2 separate regions of the Homo sapiens genome follow, and region 2 is linked to region 1. Evidence: fine-mapped expression QTL. A gene starts in region 1. The other region holds a variant in brackets. All regions are shown on one strand. Distances are from middle to middle. Region 1 holds the start of KRT23 (keratin 23). Region 2 has its middle 3.2 kb from the start of KRTAP3-2.

The links. PIP is the estimated chance that this variant, and not a neighbour inherited with it, causes the effect.
Region 2: its variant is the best candidate, but not a certain one, in a credible set for the expression of KRT23 in whole blood (TOPMed, PIP 0.53).

The regions. Positions count from the first base shown.
Region 1 is chr17:40,935,696-40,940,092 of GRCh38, forward strand. KRT23 (keratin 23) reads right to left here and starts at 1,951. Exons shown (of 9, transcript NM_015515.5): 1 at 1,651-1,951; 2 at 513-1,258. The coding sequence starts at 908. The region is part of intron 1 of LOC107985072 (a long non-coding RNA gene); the gene reads left to right.
Region 2 is chr17:41,000,868-41,005,264 of GRCh38, forward strand. It overlaps the pseudogene KRTAP3-4P. Among named protein-coding and RNA genes, the nearest start is that of KRTAP3-2, 3.2 kb to the left of the region's middle. The variant T/G (reference allele first, on the strand shown) is at 1,778.

The sequences.
Region 1 (4,397 bases):
CTTCAAAATAGTGTAACAGCCTTTTGTCGATGGATAACCACATTGTTCAAAAAAGTTTGAGGTGGAGCAGAACTGAGGTAATGAGAAAGTAAACACTCTCTTATGCCTGGTGCACTGAGCATGCAGCATGAACACCAGCCCTTATCATTTCTATGACATCGTTGGGTCATAAGTGACATTAAACAGCAGCTGGTTGCCTCACATTTTAAAGATGTTTTTGGTCTGTGAGAAATCAGTAGTCTCATTTTTGAAACAGTCTGTAGCACTTCTATCATTTTTGCTGCCTTCTTTTTCTACATTATCCATGGACAGTAGACTAATTAAACAAAACAGACGTTTCCCACTCCAAATTTAAGATATAATAAGAAAACATCCCCCAAAACCTTTGTGCACAATTACTTCAAGCGCTGATGCCATTTTCCTGGAAATTGTCTTCTGGACTCATTTTTCCTCCCGAGGGTCCCCTGGCAAAGCAGCCCCATCTGGATCTCCAGGGTCACCCAGCATCTTACCTGCTCCTGCAGGTGTGTGATGTTTTCCTCATACTGGGAATAATCTTTCTTACTGCCAGGATCTCTCTGCTGGTGCCATTTCAGGATGCGGCTTTCCAGCTTCATGTTGGCCTCCTCCAGGGCGCGAACCTTCTCCAGGTAGGAGGCCAGGCGGTCGTTGAGATTCTGCATGGTGGCCTTCCCATTTCCGCCTAGTAGGGGGCTGCTTCTTCCAGAACCCCAAGACCCTCCAGGGGGTGGGCAGCTCCGCGTGGTGAAGGACAGGGAGATGCGGGCTCCCCCCGCACCGCCATGGACGGTGGGAGCCCTGGGGAAGCTCCTGGGCCGGCCCCAGCCACCTCCGGCGCCATGGAAGGAGGCCGAGGGGGTCTGGCTGAAGCTGTGTCCGGAGTTCATGGTCCCATCTGTGTTTGGGACGGGGCTGAGCTCTGCTCCACTCCCTGGCACCGCAGAACTGAGCCGCCCCAGACTGCCCTGGATGGTTTTATGGCCTTTGCTGTGGGAGTTCCCTTCTCTGACAATTGTACCAACAAGATTGTATCATTGTGCAACTTGTGTTTCCTCTTGGTCAATCCCAAAGTGCCCCTGGGCCTTCGCACACTGTTGTTGTTTAGAGCCACATCAATATGACAGTTTGCTTCCTCCCTTCCCCTGGTAACCCGGAGGTGTGGCCCACGACATCAGGCGGGTATTGGGCTCAGGTATCTTTCTAATCTTGCCGTGAAGTTTTTCCATTGTTCATTTACCTGGAATGGGTTAGGTTAAAGTCCACCCAAAAGAAAGCATATTCGATGTAGTATAGATTTCCTTAAAAAAAACCAAAAACCAAAACCAAAACAAAACAACAACAACAGCAACAAAAAACCAGACATTAAACAACAGAGATACACACACCTTTTTCCACCCCCAATAAGCCCCACCTCTAAAGGGAGGGTGAGCGAGCCTGGAGAAGGGAAAGCCAGCTCAGAACAGGATCTCAGGTCCCAGAATAAAGCTTGCTGTGCTGAGGCAGCCGAGAAGGTGGTGAATATCTGATGCCTTTGTGGCAGTCACTGTTTGAAGGAAAGTACTTTCAAAGGACTCGCTCTTAAGAACAAACCCTCAATTATAGATGTAATTAATTAATGAATGACCGAACCTTCCACTTCCAGGGTGCCTTTCATCCCAGCACACCTCAAAACCAAACAACCCTGGCCTGCGCTCAGGATTTCCCTTGGCCCTGGGGGAGGAATGTAGCCGTTGTTAGCAGCCCCGGACCCCGGCTGAGCCTGCCACGGCTGGGCTCTGTGTGTCTGTGACCTGCAGAGGGACGATGGAAAACAGGAAACCTGCCATGGGCTGTCAAATGTGGTTGATGAATCTTATATTTCATCTGCCAAGGTAAAGGTTAGGAATGAATAAAGAAGCAGTCTGGGGGCGGGAGCCACGTGCTAGTTACTGGCAGTTGGATTTAAAGGGGACTTACAAATAAAATATCAGCGCAGGAAGGGCTTCTGGCCTTTCTGGTTCCAAGCCACTAATTGGACAGATGAGGAAAGCTGAGGCCTATGGTGGTGGGGAGGTTAGTGGCAGAGCCAGGGCTAGATTCTTTCTCCACATAGCACTGTTATCTTGGGTTGAATCTTGACAGGTCCTGTACCACACTTCTCTTTCATAATAATAGGACTTGCCAATTGGTGTAGCTCTTTTATATTCTTTATTGAATCCTCACAACTCTTTATGTATCCAGGCAAGGGTTGTTGTCTTCATTTTGCAGACAAAGAATCAGGGTCTCATAGGGATGAATGATCCAGAGCTGATTCGCATGTACAGTGTAATTGAGCACATGAATTCATAGGTGACACTGCCCGAGTCTGTGCTGTCCTCCCTGCCTGGAAAGTCACTCACCCCTACCTCTTCTATAGTTCAAGGGCTACCTCCTTCAACAATCATTTTCTGAATTCTCCTGCATGAGTTGGGTGACCCTCTAGGAGGAAACTGCCTCTTCTGGATGCCGAGGTCCTCCAGAGGGGCAGACACCTTGGCATCCCACCTCATGGTGGAAGCTGGGAGCCCCTAGCCAGGCGCAGCCACCTCCTGTGCCTGGGATGAAGTCCACTCCGTTCTTTCACTCCATTATACTGCATTTGCCACACCCTTCTGAGACCGCAGGCTTCTTGAAAGCAGAGTTTATGTCTTCCATTTTTGAGCACCAAAGTCTGGTTTCTTGGTGGTATTTTGCAAATGTATGTTGACTCAATCATAAACTTTTTAGAGTCAGGATTTTAACACAGGTCTCCTGATGCCATCAACTTCTGCTCCTTTTAGGACTGTGAGTTATAGAACTAGAAAGTAGGAAAACGCCTCTCCTGGGTATAGATTAACCATCCATGAAGGCCAATCTTTTCCAATTACAAATAAAGCCACCCAAAAGCACACCAGCTCTGCTCCTCCCAGTCTTACAACAAAACCTTATCAGGGAAGAGTCTCTGAATATTTTTTATTTCACTGTGCACGAGCTGGAAAAATGAGCCTCCAAGCCTCAGGGAAGCTTGGAGAGTGCTTAGAAAGAGTGCCGACAGTCACTTACATCTCAGATATGAGAAAAAGACAAAAGAGACAAGTGATAAAAATAGAGCAAATGAGGGAACTAGAGAGACTTGTTTGGCGAGTGGTGGCAACCAGTGTTCTGTGGATGTGGACGGTTCCTGGTCATCAAAGTTATGGTCAGCTCTGGTTCCTGTTCGCCTGGACCCAGACTTACCAAGGAAGAAAACATTTACCTTTAGCATGTGCAAGGGCCGGGCTGCACTGCCTTTTTCTAAATTCTCTCACCAGAATCTACAATGAAATTAATGCTTCTCTAATTATTTCAGGCATGTCTGAGTGGCAGTGACTTATCAACCCCATAGATTTGGCCACTGTCTCATTTTATGTCCATGTGTGGGAGTTTTGATTTATAGGACTTATCCTTGAGCAAAAGATTTCTTGTGTCATAGCAGGACCAGGGCCAGGAAAAACTGGTGGTGAGATCTGAGAGCACTGGGGAGAAATAGTCTCTTCTAGTACTGTTATATGATGGTTTCCCATAACTTCTTTTTTTTTTTTTCTCAAGATGGAGTTTTGCTCTGTCACCCAGGCTGGAGTGCAATGGCGCAATCTTGACTCACTGCAACCTCCGCCTCCTGGGTTCAAGCGATTCTCCTGCCTCAGCCTCCCGAGTAGCTAGGATTACAGGTGCGCACCACCATGCCCAGCTAATTTTTTGTATTTTTAGTAGAGACGGGGTTTCACCATGTTGGCCAGGCTGGTCTTGAACTCCTGACCTCATGATCTGCCTGCCTTGGCCTCCCAAAGTGCTGGGATTACAGGCATGAGCCACCCTGCCCAGCCAATTTTCCATAACTTCTTTTTTTTTTTTTTGAGACAGAGTCTCGCCCTGTCGCCCAGGCTGGAGTGCAGTGATGTGATCGTGGCTCACTGCAACCTCCACCTCCCGGGTTCAAGCGATTCTTCTGCCTCAGCCTCCCGAGTAGCCGGGACCACAGGTGCGTGCCACCACGCCCGGCTAATCTTTGTAGTTTTTAGTAGAGACGGGGTTTTACCATGTTGGCCAGGCAGATCTTGAACTTCTGACTTTGTGATCCACCCACCTCGGCCTCCCAAAGTGCTGGGATTATAGGCATGAGCCACCGCACCCGGCCCTGGTTTTCCATAACTTCTAATGTGTAGAGTTCCATTGGATTTTAAAAGAAATGATGCTTTTTTAAAAGCATCATTTTAAAAGCATTAAAAGAAATGATACATGCTTATTATACAAAATCAAGTGATACATGATGGTACAGGAAAAAATATTTAAAAATTCTACCACACACACACAACGTTTGGTGACATTTGGTGAACATC
Region 2 (4,397 bases), 65 kb after region 1:
TTGGATCTTGAACTAGATTGAAATTCCTTTGAGGTATGCCTTAAACAACATTATTTACTTAAGTCAGCCAGAGATTGAACTAGATAATATCAAATGTGTAATATTCTAGATTCCAACATCTTCCTACACCTGTCCATGATCAGCACAAATCCTTTCAGATAATATTGTATAATTTAAATTACATACTCGTTATGTGGCAATTTGTTGACTTAACAGAAAGCAAAGATTCCGGGTAGGTTGTTTCTGAGGGGACATTACCAAAAACCAGTACGATCTACTTAAAAGAGAAGAAAGCTGGCTAAAATCAGTGGAAAATATCAAATGTCATTGGTAGGTAAGCCTTATACGTTATACGTTAAAACAACCAGTTTATCTTTTTCTTTAACAACAAAAATATGTGGTACATATATGCCATAGAATACTATGCAGCCATAAAAAATAAGGAGCTCCTATCCTTTGAAGAAACATGGATGGAGCTGGAGGCTATTATCTTTAGTAACTAATGCAGAAACAGAAAACCGAATACTGCATGTTCTCACTTATAAGTGGTAGCTAAATGATGAGAACGCATGGACACATAGAGGGGAATAACAGATGCTAGAACCTATCAGAGGGTGGAAGGTGGGAGGAGGGACAGGATCAGGAAAAATAACTGGTAGGTACTAGGCTTAATACGTGGGTGATGAGATAATCTGTACAACAAACCCCCATGACACCAGCTTACCTATGTAACAAACCTGCACAGGTACCCCTGAACTTAAAAGTTAAAAACAAAAAAACAGAAAACAGCTTCAAATCATTTTTATTAGCAGGAATTTACAACAAATGCCAAGGGTGTCGAACATCATACTGTTACCAGATGGTGCCATGCAGTTCCAGGCTTTTGGTGTCCCAAAGAATTGGACGAGACACCCACAGCAAAACAAAGAAACAAAAGTGTATTAAGCACAGTATTACACTCTAAGAGGGGGAGAGCAAACCAGCCTCTGTGAGATGAGATCAGCCCCCAGCTTGGTGCAGTTTGCGTCTTTGTGTGTGTGTGTGTGTGTGTATGTGTGTGTGTGTGTCCCTTCCCAAGGCTGCCTAATCTCTAGCCAGTGTTTGCCTCTTTGATTGACAGGTGTGTTGCTTAGTTACTTTGGCCCCTGTGTGCTTGCGCACCACCTCCAGCCCATAATTTTAAGTACATACATGATATGCAGTCCATATGCATAAGCCTGAATGAGCTGATTTTCATACAAGGTCATGTTAAGGATACGTTTTCTCTTTAATGCACATGCTTATCCATGAAGAGTTGCCCCTTACTGGTTTGGTCCTTATCTTGCCGGCCATGGGGGCCTTGCTTTCTTCTCTATCTTACTTTTTGTTTTGGCTGGAGTGCAGTGGCATTCTCTGCTCACTGCAGCCTCTACTTTCTGGGATCAAGTGATTCTCCTACCTCAGACTCCCAAGTAGCAGCTGGGATTACAGGTGCCCGCCACCACACCCAGCTAAGTTTTGTATTTTTTGTAGAGAGGGGTGTTTCTCCATGTTGGCCAGGCTGGTCTTGAACTCCTGATCTCAAGTGATCCACCTGCTTCGGCCTCCCAAAATGCCAGGATTACAGCATGAGCCACCGCGCCTGGTCTAACTTCTGCTTCTTATCTTGCTTCTTGCTTACCTGCCCCTTCACCTTGCTTCTGGTCTCTGCTTTTATTCACTCCACCCTTTATCCAAGTTTTAATTCCCTTTGCTAGTCTCCTGCCTCAATACCTGCACTTTACCACTGAAGAACAGA[T/G]AAGCAAATTCAAGTGGCTTTCCCAGTATATTATAAAATTCAAAGTTAATGAACTAGTATTGAAATCGTCAAGGAAATGTTTAATGTTTACTTACTCTTGACTTACCAGTCTCTCTCATCTAGAAGCCAGTGGCTTGGCAAGTAGAATATATGAAGAAGACCCTCTCCCATTCTCTGTGTTCTCTCTGACTTCTCTTTTAAAATCGATTTTGAAATATTATATAGATTCAGGAGATCTACTGTACAACATGGTGACTATAGTGAATAACCATATATTGCATTTTTGAAAAACGCTGAGAGAATGGATTAAGTGTTCTCATCACAAAAATGATAACTATGTGAGTCACGCATATGTTAATCATACAGCACATTACATAAAGTGAAGGCGGGAGTCTCCTAGGTACTTTACCCTCTGTGACCTCGTTCATACTGTTTCTTTAGCTTAAAGTGACCTTTCCCAATTCTCTAGTTTCCAAATCCTGTTGATCCCTCAAGATTCAGCCAAACATCCCCTTCATAAAGAAACTCTAGGTGATTCTTCTAGATGTTTGCATCCTTTTCTCTGCTCTCACAAAATGGGCTGCCTATTCTTCCCTTTCAACCTCATTTCTTTCTGCTATATTTTGTAGTTTGTCACTTAAATTTGTTTTCCTCACTCCAATGCAAGGTTCTTGGAAGTGGTAATCGTATGTTAGTTTTATTTGTCTTTTTCAAGCACCTAGGACAATGCCTGAAACAGGGTAGGCATTTGATAAATATTTGTTGAATTGGATTACATTTCAGATTAGAATTAAAAAGGTATTTATTTATTTTTATAATGGCCTTTTATAACAGTAACACTTTATATAAAGAGAGTGATTCATTTTTTGTGTGAATTGCTTTACAGTTGTCAAAACTTTTTTTTTTTTTTGAGATGGAGTTTTGCTCTTGTTGCCCAGGCTGGAGTGCAATGGCACGATCTTGGCTCACAGTAACCTCTGCCTCCCGGGTTCAAGCCATTCTCCTGCCTCAGCCTGAGGAATAGATGGGATTACATTCATGCTCTACCATGCCCGGCTAATTTTGTATTTTTAGTAGAGACGGGCTTTCACCATGTTGGTCAGGCTGGTCTTGAACTCCGGACCTCAGGTGATCCGCCCGCCTCAGCCTCCCAAAGTGCTGGGATTAGAGAGGCGTGAGCCACCATGCCTGGCCAACATTTTTAAATTCAAAGATTTACCTAAATGAGACAGCGAAAAAAATGGGCTTGGCTCAATCTTTGAGGTCCTTTCTGTGAGCATGTTGATCTCAAATTGCTAGCTTCACTGCCTCTTTAAGGACACGTGAGTTTATTTAGAGGCAGGGAAAAAATAAAAATCAAAGGTAGATGCTGACCTTGGCATTTAAAACGATTCTAAGCTTAGAGCCTAATGCATTTCACTATCCTCACAGTTTTCTTCAGGTATCTACGTATGCCTGTGAGGCCTCTTTTTGGCTATGAAATTTATGTTGATGTCATCAGAAAGTGTAATTCTGCTGGATGTATTTTTAAGTTCATGATGCATGTGTCAAGAGTCGTTGGGTAATTATAGCATTAAATGTTGAGGCAGTATGTGGTTTGGGGAGTAGTGGTGTTTATTTAGTTTTGAAGTAAGGGGATCCATGGTAGCATTTTTTTTCCCATTTCTCATTTGAAATCATTGTTCAAAACAGGAAAAGAAAACTTCTGTAAAACTGAAGGCACAGTGCTATATTTTCTTCCAAATGGCCTCATTAAAGGCCATTTGCTGAGCAGCGCTTAATGACTACTGAAGGTCCTCAGGGTAATGTGGGCAAGCTCTTTGGCTAGCAGCAAGGTGGTTCACACTCTGGATGCAGGTGGTGACAGAGAGCCCGCTCAGGGTTGGAGCTGGGTGGCATTTGTTGAGCAGTCAACAGGATGGCACATAGGAGTCAGGCATGCAGCCAGGCAGGGGCCAGGTTCACAGCAGGTGGGCTGAAGGAGGCTGATCTCATGAGGACAGGTGCTGGGTAGGCAGACTTCACATTGACAGCTTATGTCAGAGGGGCAGATAGTGGTGGCCAGGCCAGTGGGGACGCTGCAGCATCCTTGGAGATAGGAATCACAGCAAGACATAGTGACAGTGGACCAGGACAATGTTTTGTGGCAAAGGAAGGCTTTCTTCTACAAGGTTGTCCTCTATGGGTCTTTTATATCCACCTATCTCAGGGAACACGGCTTCTGTCCATCAGAATGTTGGACGGAACATCCTTGTTGCTGTTTACCTAATTCTGTAAAAATAACTCACTAACTTCTTATGTATCAGACAGGGGATGAGCTCTCCTTCAGTTTTATTTAGTTGTGTTGCTGCATTCAAACTTGCTTTCTGTTGTAGTTTCAAAATGGTGTCAGTGTAGTTTTCCACTTACTCACATGTAGACACATCCATACTGTATTAGTCTGTTCTCATGCTGCTATAGGGACATACCCGAGATTGGGTAATTTATAAAGGAAAGAAGTTTAATGGACTCACAGTAGACCCACCTCAGCCTCCCAAAGTGCTGGGATTACAGGCACGAGTCGCTGTGCCTGGCCTCAATAACAATTTGAAGGAAAAATGAAATATCTTGTTTTTTATTA